3 linked regions of the Homo sapiens genome follow. The protein of the gene in region 1 interacts with the protein of each later gene in a pairwise test. Each region holds a gene or a part of one and is shown on either strand. Other genes may lie near its edges.

What was found.
Region 2: the proteins of FAM118A (region 1) and WDR4 interact in binary tests that used the Homo sapiens proteins (3 or more experiments, as listed by UniProt).
Region 3: the proteins of FAM118A (region 1) and DCDC2 interact in binary tests that used the Homo sapiens proteins (3 or more experiments, as listed by UniProt).

Annotation. Positions count from the first base shown.
Region 1 is NC_000022.11:45,312,928-45,316,677, reverse strand, and holds part of FAM118A (protein FAM118A), read right to left. Parts: intron 1-3,750.
Region 2 is NC_000021.9:42,865,793-42,869,542, reverse strand, and holds part of WDR4 (tRNA (guanine-N(7)-)-methyltransferase non-catalytic subunit WDR4), read left to right. Parts: intron 1-3,750. UniProt on the Homo sapiens protein: Non-catalytic component of the METTL1-WDR4 methyltransferase complex required for the formation of N(7)-methylguanine in a subset of RNA species, such as tRNAs, mRNAs and microRNAs (miRNAs).
Region 3 is NC_000006.12:24,351,442-24,355,191, forward strand, and holds part of DCDC2 (doublecortin domain-containing protein 2), read right to left. Parts: intron 2,183-3,750; coding exon 2,128-2,182; intron 1-2,127. UniProt on the Homo sapiens protein: Protein that plays a role in the inhibition of canonical Wnt signaling pathway. May be involved in neuronal migration during development of the cerebral neocortex. Involved in the control of ciliogenesis and ciliary length.

The sequences.
Region 1 (3,750 bases):
CAAGAGGCTGGGAAATACTAAATTTAATCAGTGTAGCCAGGGTGGATCTTGAGGACTGGAATGTCCTTAAAGGAGGCCAGAATCTATCCACTGCATTCTGACTACACCAAGGCAGCTCTGGAAGACCGGGAGCCTTCAAGCAAGCCCTTCCCAGCATGACCCTCAGCAAGACAGATGACTGCATGCTATGGAAGCTCAACGGCCAGACCCTGCTCATTAATATCCTCCTCTCCCTTCATTCTAGATGTGATTCCCACAAACTTCCTTTTTCACAGCCATCAGGTTCCCACGTAGGCTTGGGAGAGGAGAAGAGTGTGGCGGCAGAAATCACTGAGCAAGGCTGGATGTGGAGGCTCACACCTGTAATCCCAGCACTTTGGGAGGCCGAGGCGGCCGGATCACCTAAAGTAAGGAGGTCGAGACCAGCCTGGCCAACATGGTGAAACCGTGTCTCTAATAAAAATACAAAAATAAGCCAGGTATGGTGGTGCGCACCTGTAATCCCAGCTACTCTGGAGGCTAAGACAGGAGAATCGCTTGAACCCGGGAGGCAGAGGTTGCAGTGAGCCGAGATCGTGCCACTGCACTCCACACTGAGTGACAGAGCAAGACTCCATCTCAAAAATCAAATCAAATCACTGAGCAACAGTCTTCAAGCACATGTGACAGTCATATTTCTAACCACAAATGAACCATCTGCGATCCAGCTGATAGGTTTCTGGTGAGTTTGATTAGCATGACTAGGGTCACCTGAACTGGAAACAAGGCACAAATGGGCAAAAAATTAAGCTTCTGGAACTGCAAAGGAGAGGCTTAGCCTTGAAACCACAACACCCCCACCTGAAGCAGCATTAGGACTAAGGTGCAGAAAACACAGGATCTGGAGACAAGGAAACACCACCCTTTCCCCAGCCAGGTAGACCTCTCTAAACCTGTTTCCCCCAGCCAGGTAGACCTCTCTAAACCTGTTTCCCCCAGCCAGGTAGACCTCTCTAAACCTATTTCCCCCAGCCAGGTAGACCTCTCTAAACCTGTTTCCCCCAGCCAGGTAGACCTCTCTAAACCTGTTTCTCCATCTCCCAAATGGGGATCCCAACATGCACATCACCGACGGGGCTGCTGCAGACATTCAAGGGAGACGCGTATCTGAAAGGCACTTAATAAAGTGTACAGTGTCTGTTACTCTCAACCGCCTCACGCTAGCACCACTCTTCCAAGGCAGTCACCACAACTACATTTCAGTGTAATCATGGTTCTGGTAAAACTTAATCTCAGCCATTACTAATAATAAGGGATCTTCAGGATGAGTTATTTTCTTCAATTTACAGAAAATATGAACCCTTAATTTGAACGCACTCCACTTAACCAATTACTTTTTATTCTGTTGAACTTAATTATAATGGGAAAAATGCCTTATTTTGTAATGATGGAAATAAGTTAATTGGATTCCTGAAACCAGTCCCACCAAACAGAGCTGCTTGGACGTATACACCCAAACCAGGAAAACAGCAAAACCCACCACTAGAAAAAGAATCTAATTCAAATTTAGTTTAATTTGGTCACAAATTAATTCAAAGAGCAACATTAATTACTGCCACTTTTTCAGCCTTTAATAGAGATTCAAGGGAAAATGCTAAGCGTTTTACACGCACTATCTCAGTTAACCTCAATAACCCGATGAGGTGGCGACTCCTATGACCCACAGCCTGGCCAAGGCCGATAGTGAACCCTTCTAACAGGCCAGCCCCAAGTTGTGTATTATATATTCTTGCGCCTTTCTTCCTAACATCAGTGCAGCTTGAAATGGCAAACAAATATACCTGATATTTTACTGGGAACTCTGCCATCCACTAAAGCATTCAGCATTTTACATACAGTTTGTCCACCAGATGTGACACATTAACTCAAATAAACGTGTTACTTAACAAGCCAATGTTAAAACACGCCAAGACAGAGGCCAGGGGCTTGTGGACCCACCTGCCTTTACCCCACCTCAAGAGGATACGTAAGACATGTTCTAGAAGGTAAACCTCCAACAAAATGTAAAATGACAGAATTTCAGAGCGGGCAGGATCTTAAAGGTTACATGAAACCAAATGCCCTAATTTTTCAGAAGTGAAAATTGAGACTAAGAGACAGTGACTTTGTCAACTTCCCCCACGGGGCTGGGAACAAGCTATAAAGTAACTCCTGGCTCATGTCCCATACCCTTCCCACCGGCCTGGGCATTGTCTGGTCCACTGTGACCCCAACACTTTAAGGCACTCATTTCTACCTCTTTACCACCAAATCATTACAAATAAGGCACAGTTTAGTTTTCTACAGTTTCTCCTTCCCCGGAAATGTTGAAAGAGTTGCCATTAGGCAGATAGAAGAGGCGGCAGGCAGAGCAGCTCCAGGAAAAAGACCAGCCCCTGCACAGTGTGCTTATCATTCAACTGTCCATGTTAGCTTGGGGGGCGGGGTGGGAACAGATAAGGAGGGCCACATGGAGGAACAATGCTACCAACTCAAGAGGACGGCATTTTCCTGACAAGGAGATGCTGCAGGCTCCTTGGGGGAAGGAGGTAGGATACAGCAGCAACAGCCTGGCCAACAAATCAGTACTGGCTGAACTCCTTACTACCTGGGCAAGGACTCATTCCTGAGCCTATTTACTTTTTCTACAAAGGAAAGAATATCTTATACCTCCTAAGGTTGCTGGAAGCATTAAATGGAATAAAAGAACAAAGCCTGGAACAGTGTGCTTCCTACTACACCCTAGATGTGTGATAGGGAATCCTTCCTAGATTTAATTAAAATTAAAGCTAAATAAAATTAAACAGCTGCGTCACATTAGTCATATTTTCAGTGTTCGGCGGCCACAAGCGGCCAGTGTGTACTGGACAACAGTCATTACATTTTGGTTACCACAGGAAGTTCCATTGTGCAGTTATCCCTGAGTCTGTCTCTCCCTCACCTAAGCCCAGACTTCAACAAACAAGTCCTGTAGATTTTTCTTCCTAAATCTGTTTAATCCATACCGTCTGCCACAGTCTTAAAGCCCTCACAACTTGGCTGGGAGTGGTGGCTCACACCTGTAATCCCAGCACTTTGGGAGGCCGAGGCGAATGGATCACCTGAGGTTGGGAGTTTAAGACCAGCCTGGCCAACATAGTGAAACCCCGTCTCTACTAAAAATACAAAAAGTAGCTGGGCAAGGTGGCAGGCGCCTGTAATCCCAGCTACTTGGGAGGCTGAGGCAGGAGAATCGCTTGAATCTGGGAGGCAGAGGTTGCAGTGAGCCGAGATCGCACCATTGCACTCCAGCCCTGGCAACAAGAGCAAAACTCCATCTCAAAAAAAAAAAAAAAAAAAACCCTCACGACATGTCTGACACTGAAAGGCACCTGCTTCCAGTTCCAGCCCCTCTAGTCCTCTAGTCCCACATAGTCACCAGAGGGAAATTTCTGACACATCTGAACTTGTCTCCCCTCCAACAGCTTTGCATTTTGTTGAAATCTCTACTTGGTCTTCATCCTGTTTCCCGTCTTACTACTCCTAGAATCCCTGGAATCTCCAAAGTGCTGTCATTTTGTATGCTAATGAGCTGATTGACGCAGATAGGCCCTGGGCAGCTTCAGAAGGGGGCTTATCACCAGAAAGACCAAGGCAGGATTAGATCCTTGGAACTTTCAGCCCCACCCACTAACCTGGGGAAGAGAGGGCTAAAGATTACGTTGATCACCAAAGGCCAATGGTTTAATTAAG
Region 2 (3,750 bases), on another chromosome or scaffold:
GGCCTTTCTGTGGCACAGGTGTGTAAGGTGAGCTGCACCGGTAACCACTGAGACTGGATTAGCATTTTCCAATACCCTTGCCTTAGCTGACAAAACTTCAAAGCCCTGGGGTCAAGAACAAGTGCAGAGCTGAGATCCACGTGCCGATGTGTACACGGATCTCAGACGTGATCCAGTTACTTAGACAACAGTGGAGTGTGTGGGTTCCCGTTCAGCTATGGTGAGTGGGGTTGTAGAAGTTGGGAGTGAATTCTCACTTGTCTGCTTCCCCTGGAGTACAGTTCGGTGTCCTCTCATGCTACCTTTTGCCTTTTTTATCCTTTGGTTTTGGTCCGTACAGAAAATTGGAAACCACTGAGAAGTACAAAATGAGAGCAAGAACAAAAACCACCCTGAATTTCACCACCCAGAGCCAGAGTATGGGATGAGCACTGGGGCCAGGCCCTCCTCCTCCTCTCTGCAGATGGATTACAGGATTTGCATGTGTTACACTGTAGTGGTGGCATGTGCTAGCCTATAGCCTGTTCCCCCCCGCCAGGGCAGTGTTGACAACACTGTGTCATTCCCTGTAGCTGAGTTGTTACATTGTTTGCACTGTTCCACTGCTCAAATGCTAGTGTTTCCTTGTACCTCTTCCTGCCTTTAAACTTCGGGAAGTTTGAGCCAGAGCAACTGGGACAGCAGAGGTGTGGACAGTGTGGGTTTACTGGCACCAATGTGTGACAACAGACACGGCGAAGCTTCCCAAGCCTTGGTGTCCAGCGGTTTCCTTGGGGTTGATCACATGCTGTGGGGGTGGCTGACTTTTAGTTCCCAGCCCCTCCAGAGGTGGAGTGGACACCTTGTGGCCCCAGGCCCCTGCCCTAAATCACGTACTTAGGCTGCCTGTGGGGCCCAAGGCCCCTACTCTTGGAGATGAGGCCAAAGGCAAGGTTAATTCTTCACTATGCAGAGGGTGTACCCTGTGCCAAGGCTTTTGATGTCTGGTACCAGACACCATTTGAGGAGTAGCCACTGCCTGCAGAGGGTAGGGGAGGCTGGGTCTGGCCGTGTGTGCCGTAGGCCTGGCTGGTGGTGGGGGTGAGCGGGCAGGGAGCTCACTCGTGTCTTGAAGACGCTGACTCTTTCAAGTCTGGACAGTGCTGCGGCTGTGAAGTTCTGAGGTTGCCAGAAAGATGGAGACGTGGGTGGAATGTCACCTTACTTCAATGTGAGCTTGCTGTCCAGAGGTAGTGTCTCACTTTGAACTTGGGAGAGAGGGGATGTCCAGTCTGCCTGCCCGCTGTGTCCTGGTTCCTAACAGTGGAGCTTCTTCACCCTGATGGAAGCGCGGAGGCCCAGGGCTCCTCCAGGGGTTCTGACTCCTCCAGAGGGACGGGGCCTCTGCTCCTGGCATCGTGCATGGCCCAGAGGAGGGAGGAATCTAGAATTCTCTCCACTCAATGTGGTTGCCTGTGGCAGTTGGCTTCTTGGAGGAGGTCATTTGAGGTTGAGAGCTCCATGAGTTGGGACTCGTGGTGGATGCAGATACCGCTGCAGGCTGGGCGGGTGGGGGGCCTCTTCATCCTTGGTTGTAGGTGCTTTGCCAAGAGGGAGATGTCTTGCTGTGTTGACTCGTCTTTTGAAGGTTGTGTGCTGGTGTGATTCTCTTTATGGAAGCACCTGGTAAAACTCTGGGAGGCTGGCATGGTGGCTCATGCCTGTAATCCCAGCATTTTGAGGGGCCAAGGTGAGAGGATCCCTTGAGGCCAGCAGTTCGAGGCCAGTCTGGCCTCAACATAGTGAGATCTCGTATCTACAAAGAAAAAAAAAAGCACAAGTCCAAGAGTGGGCAGTGCATCTAGTTTAAGTACCCCTAATCTGAAATTCACAATCCTCCAAAATCCGAAATTTTGTGAGCATAGGGAAGATGCTCAAAGGAAATGCTCACTGGAATGTTTCGGATTTTGGATTTTTAGGTTAGGGATGCTGAGCCAGTAAGTATTTGCAAATATTCCAAAACCTGAACAAATCTGAAGTGCAAAGCACTTTTCGTCCCGAGCATTTGGGATGAGGGATGGGCAGCCTGCAGCATGTGAGCAAAGAGCAGTGTTTGGCTCTTGGCAGTGCCCCTTTACCTGTGCGTTCACTTTTTTTTTTTTTTTTTTTTGGTGGAGCGGAGTGTCTCTTTGTCACCCAGGCTGGAGTGCAGTGGCACGGTCTTGGCTCACTGCAACCTCCACCTCCTGGGTTCAAGCGATTCTCCTGCCTCAGCCTCCTGAGTAGCTGGGATTATAGGAATGAGCCACCACGCCTGACTAATTTTTATATTTTTAGTAGAGATGGGGTTTTGCCATGTTGGCCAGGCTGGTCTTGAACTCCTGACCTCAGGTGATCTGCCCACCTTGGCTTCCCAAAGCTCTAGGATTAGAGGCGTGAGCCACTGCGCCCGGCCTGCTCTTGGTTTTGAAAGTGATGTCAGCAGTATAACTTCGTGTAGGAAATGTTTGCCTTAGGTGGTGTGGAAGATGGACCATGTGATTTGATGCAGTCCAGGCAGCAGATTACAAAATCCCGCCTCGATGGTGTGGCTTGGGGTTTCTCCTGACCTTGGTGTAGGGCACGCCTTGCTGCCTCCCCTTTCTCTAGTTGAACTGCAGGACAGTGGGTACAGTTGTGAAGTTACTGCCACTTTCAACATCTCTTGGCAAATTCCTCAATAATCTTTTTAAAATTCCTTTAGAATTGTGGGTTTGTGAACTTTTCAGCATCGGGTGGAGTGAAATTGTTACCCTTTCTCTCAGTGAGAAATTGGAGGGGATTATTGTGGCAGGAGGAGTAGGTTTGGGGGATGCGAGTGGGGCAGGGAGAGGGGCATAGGGTGAGTTTTATCAGGAGCTGCTTTCAAGGAGAGGACTAGGGTGAGTGGAACCATGCTGAGCTGGCAGGCAGCACCCTGTGGCTGGTCCGCAAACATGGGGGCTGCTCCCCACACCTGGAGGCTTTTTATGCCTCTTAGATCTCAGACTCTTAGATCTGATGCACCCGCTCCCCAGAAAACCGCCCACGCTTAGCACATCCACCTCCATTCAGTTTTAGAGGTTCCATGTACTCCTAGCCTCTCTGCATTTCACTGAGGCCCTGCACCGCTGCAGGATGCCCCTGAGCTGGGCGAGACCCTAGGCTCTGTCCCATGGTTGCTTTGTTACTGTGCTGCTGCTGGGAAGCTTCCTGTTGAAGGGTTTTGAGGCGTAGCCAAGATGGAAGTTGTGGGCAGCAACGATTCTTTCCCAGGTAGCAGTTTAGAACCGCAAGGGACGGAGGGCCTGCCACCTGGGCAGTCAGGAGACTCTTGGCCCGAGGGACTGAGGCCAGGTTTTCCAAGCCGAAGATGAGGACACAGGGTGACGAGTGATACATTGATTTTGACATGTGTGTTTATGAGGGAGAAATCCTCCCAGTGGAGTCTGTGTTTCCGAAAACAACTGTGAGAGCCACGGCAGCACGTGGGAAAGGCAGAGCCAGAGAACCATCTGATTCGCTCTGCCCAGGGGGTGGAGAGAGAGCACCTGGCTGCTGGAGTGTGGGTGTGGATGGTGCCTGGTGTCCTCAGTGCCCTGTTGGGGCTGCCCAGGCGGCTCTCTGGAGGGGGGCTTGGGGCAGTGCCAACTCAGTCTGGGAGTTCAGGGCTCAGCCACTCGACTCCTGGCAGAGAACGGAGGGTGTGGAGATGGGTGGTTACTTGCTAGGTTCTGCTGGTCTCTGGGCCCT
Region 3 (3,750 bases), on another chromosome or scaffold:
TTTCTGAACACCTTTTCCCATCTCCTTTGCATTTCACAATTTCTTCTACTTCTCTCTTTCCATCTCCTTTAGAAGGGTTTATGGGTAAGGACTGAGAAGAAATAAAAGGCCACAGCAGGGCAGCAAGAGGAAAGGAGTAAGTGGGAGGGAGTCACCAGTAGGAAGCAGGATGAAAGAGATGCAGTCTTTCATTTGGAGACAAGGGGTAGGTTTTTCACACGTAAGGTGTGCATCCATAAATAAGGATCTTGTACGTTGGCTCATGTGTAAGTGCAAAATAAAGAGAAACAATGGTTACTGTCCCCAGAGTGGAAGAACAATAAGCAAATTAAATGAACTGGAGTTTCTGTGAATGCTTCTGTTATTAAAAATACTATTTTAAGGCCGGGCTTGGTGGCTCATGCCAGTAATCCCAGCACTTTGGGAGGCCAAGGCGGGCGGATCATGAGGTCAGGAGTTCAAGACCAGCCTGACCAACATGCTGAAACCCCGTCTCTACGAAAAACAAAAAAATTAGCCAGGTGTGGTGGCACGTGCCTGTAATCCCAGCTACTCAGGAGGCTGAGGCAGGAGAATCGCTTGAACCCAGGAGGTGGAGGTTGCAGTGAGCAGAGATCGAGCCACCGCACTCCAGCCTGGGTGACAGAAGGAGACTCTGTCTCAAAAAAAAATTTTTAAGAAAAAAGTATATTCGATAAATCTATTGCACACCTGTTGTCTTTTACTAGGGATAATGTCTTCAGCAAAGACACTGGAATCCAGAGTAAATATACTGTGCTCACATTTTTTGGGAATTCACACATCTCAAATTCTATTGCGGAAGTCCAGGTTTCTTCACCAATTTCATGCAAGGTAGTATACTTTAAACAGGTGTGTATCCTTTCATCAGAATCACATCCAGAACAAATTCACAACACTGCCCTTTATTACTACTCTACTTGAGACAGATATCAACTGGTGGTCATTCTTTAGCTATATCATAAGCACAACCTGAAAATTGTATACCTTTGTCTACTTTAAGCTACAAAGCCTATCACTTTCATGACTAATCAATTTGATGCACTGAAAATACAAGCCAAAATATTAATTATGTTAAATGATGTCTAGGAAGGGTACCTCTTTCTACAGATTATTTGAATAATGAATTTAACCTCATATTCTTCAAATACTGTACAATTAGAATTTTTTTCTTACGCAATATTTTTTCTAGAGGGGCCTATTTGGTCCTATTAGGCACAAACATGATGTGAGAGGAAATGGTGAGTGTTGAGGAGAGTCCCTCTGGGGCTCTGGACTACAAGTGAGAAAAACTACTTTTCCTGTTGGCCATTTCTTCATTGGCAGCACTTACCCATTGGAAGCACTTGTTTATTTGGGGTCTGAATGGGAAGAGTGGCTGTCTGGGCTGGTGAACAGAGGCCTATTCTGGATCTAACTACAATTTTCCCTGTCTCAGGCTGTGGCCCCAACTTTGTTTTTAATCTATTTTTTCATTCACAAACTAAAGAATACATCCTACAGAATACCTAAAACTCCACCAGGGTTTCAGAAGCTACGTGGAATGCGGTATTGTGAATATTTCACAAGCTCCTTTTCCAACCTTCACATAAGCTTTCACGAACTATGCTTAACTCGTACTTCGATAGAAGCTAAAACACAGGTGTTTTCCTGACATCACAAAGTGTCCAACGTGACATCTACTCATCTCCTTTGAAAGCCTCAGGGGCAGTTAGGGTGACCCTGGCTACATCAAACACTGAGTTATCAGAGGCACATTAGGATGAGGATGTAGCTTTGGTAAAGATTTATTTAACAACGCTCAGAATCTTCTCACTTGACAGGGAACCTTCCCATGGATTTCAATCAGAGAACATGTAGCTAGAAAAGAGAAAAATATGTTTTGTCTAATCTTGACATATCCTGCACATCTTAGAACATCTACTCAGTCTTTTCATTTCTGACAATGATTCAAAGAAAGAATTATCTTTGCCTTAAAACATATAATGTTCCATTTCTTTACATTAGAGAACTCATCAAAGTAGAATGCCGTCCAAATCTCTAAGACACACCATAAGAAACAAATGGCACCGTTATTTATTTGAATTTTCAAAATAATATTTGCATTACCTCTGTATTAACAACTTCCATTGGTCTTTTCTTGATTTCTCCTATGTCCAAGTAACTGAGGAAAAAACAAACAAACAATAAGAGTTGCTTTTATAGACTTTAAGTCAGTAATTTATTTTTAAAAATCATAAAAAAATAAAGCAACTCATAGGAAATTCTCAACCTTAAAGCAAAAACAAATAGCTACTAATGAAAAGCAATTACAATAGTAAAAACTGTTTGCAGTGTCACCAACCAGAGCTGACATATGTCTACCCTAAACTTCAAGAGAAGGAAAGTCTTAGAAATACATACATCTATTAGAGAACATTTTTCCCTCTTAATAGTTAGCTGCTTACTATATACACTATATTCTTACAGATTTGATTTTTTAAAAGAGTGGCTTATGTGCAAAGCTGCTTAACTGTTCCATTAAATACAGGCTTTAGGTCAAAGGAAGTACTGATAGCGTGCATTAGGGTAACAACTGGGAAAGGCTGAGAAATTATTGTCTCTATGAGAGCACCTTAATGATACAAAAACACTCACTCATGTGGGATGACTTTGGTAATTGGTTCAGCTAAGAAACAGATGGGTGGACTAGTTAACCTCTGGAGACCCCTATTATTCCATTACTATTTGCTCTAGATACTAACAGTGATCATTCTTTAGCTGTTACATAAGCACAACCTGAAAACTGTATACCTTTGTCAACTTCACGTGTAATATCACTGTGATGTGGTTCCAGTTTTAAATGGTCCCTAAACTGTGCTTCATACATAAAATGTGCTAAATAAACATTTTAATATTAAAAAGTATAAATCTAACATATAATTTATAATGATAGATCAATCCTTTACCCCAACTACTACAATTGCCAACTTGTCCCAAAAAAAGCTTATGTTAGAATTAATTTTGGCTATTGAAATGTTTTTATTGTTGCTGTTTGCCTTTTTGGATAAAATACTTTAGTTAATTCATATCTCTGGAAATTGTCATACAATGCCCCTATATAAAAGTAGTCATATTTTTAAAACAGTGCAAACACTCCGTCTTAGCAATAAAATGGGTCTTTTGTGGACCTGCAGGGGCTGAGTTTTGAAATAATACCAAAATATTCTGTCATGTGCAGGAAAGTGGTTTCAGATCCACAAGATTAATGCTGCAGAGTCAACTTCCAACAATGCACAGGGAAAGTTTTGGGGGAAATACTCTCTAGAATCCTCTGCTGTAAAATAAAGGTTGTGAATGTATGGTCTCACATTTGAAATAAATAAGGGTTTAATAGCTACCTGATGTTTAGTTATCGTTTCAAAAATATTAGAAAAATCTAAGTGAAAGCAATTCAAGCAGCGATTTGATCAGTTCCATTTGAAAAAGATGTTGCTGTCTTTCCCAACATTTAGGGTCTAAATGAAAGCCCACGAATTGTCCTCAATATCGTTTGGGCTTTCTTTTGTTCTGACAGTTTCTCCATTCTTTACATAAACTTATAAGTGCTAAGTTTCAAATATATTCAACATTCAAGTATTCTTGGCTTCTATCATTATAACCGTAGATACTACTTCTTTAACACAAATAAAATAGTCATCTGTCAGCATGGAAACCTAACCATGGACACTGTTATAACAAATTCAGTTTTTT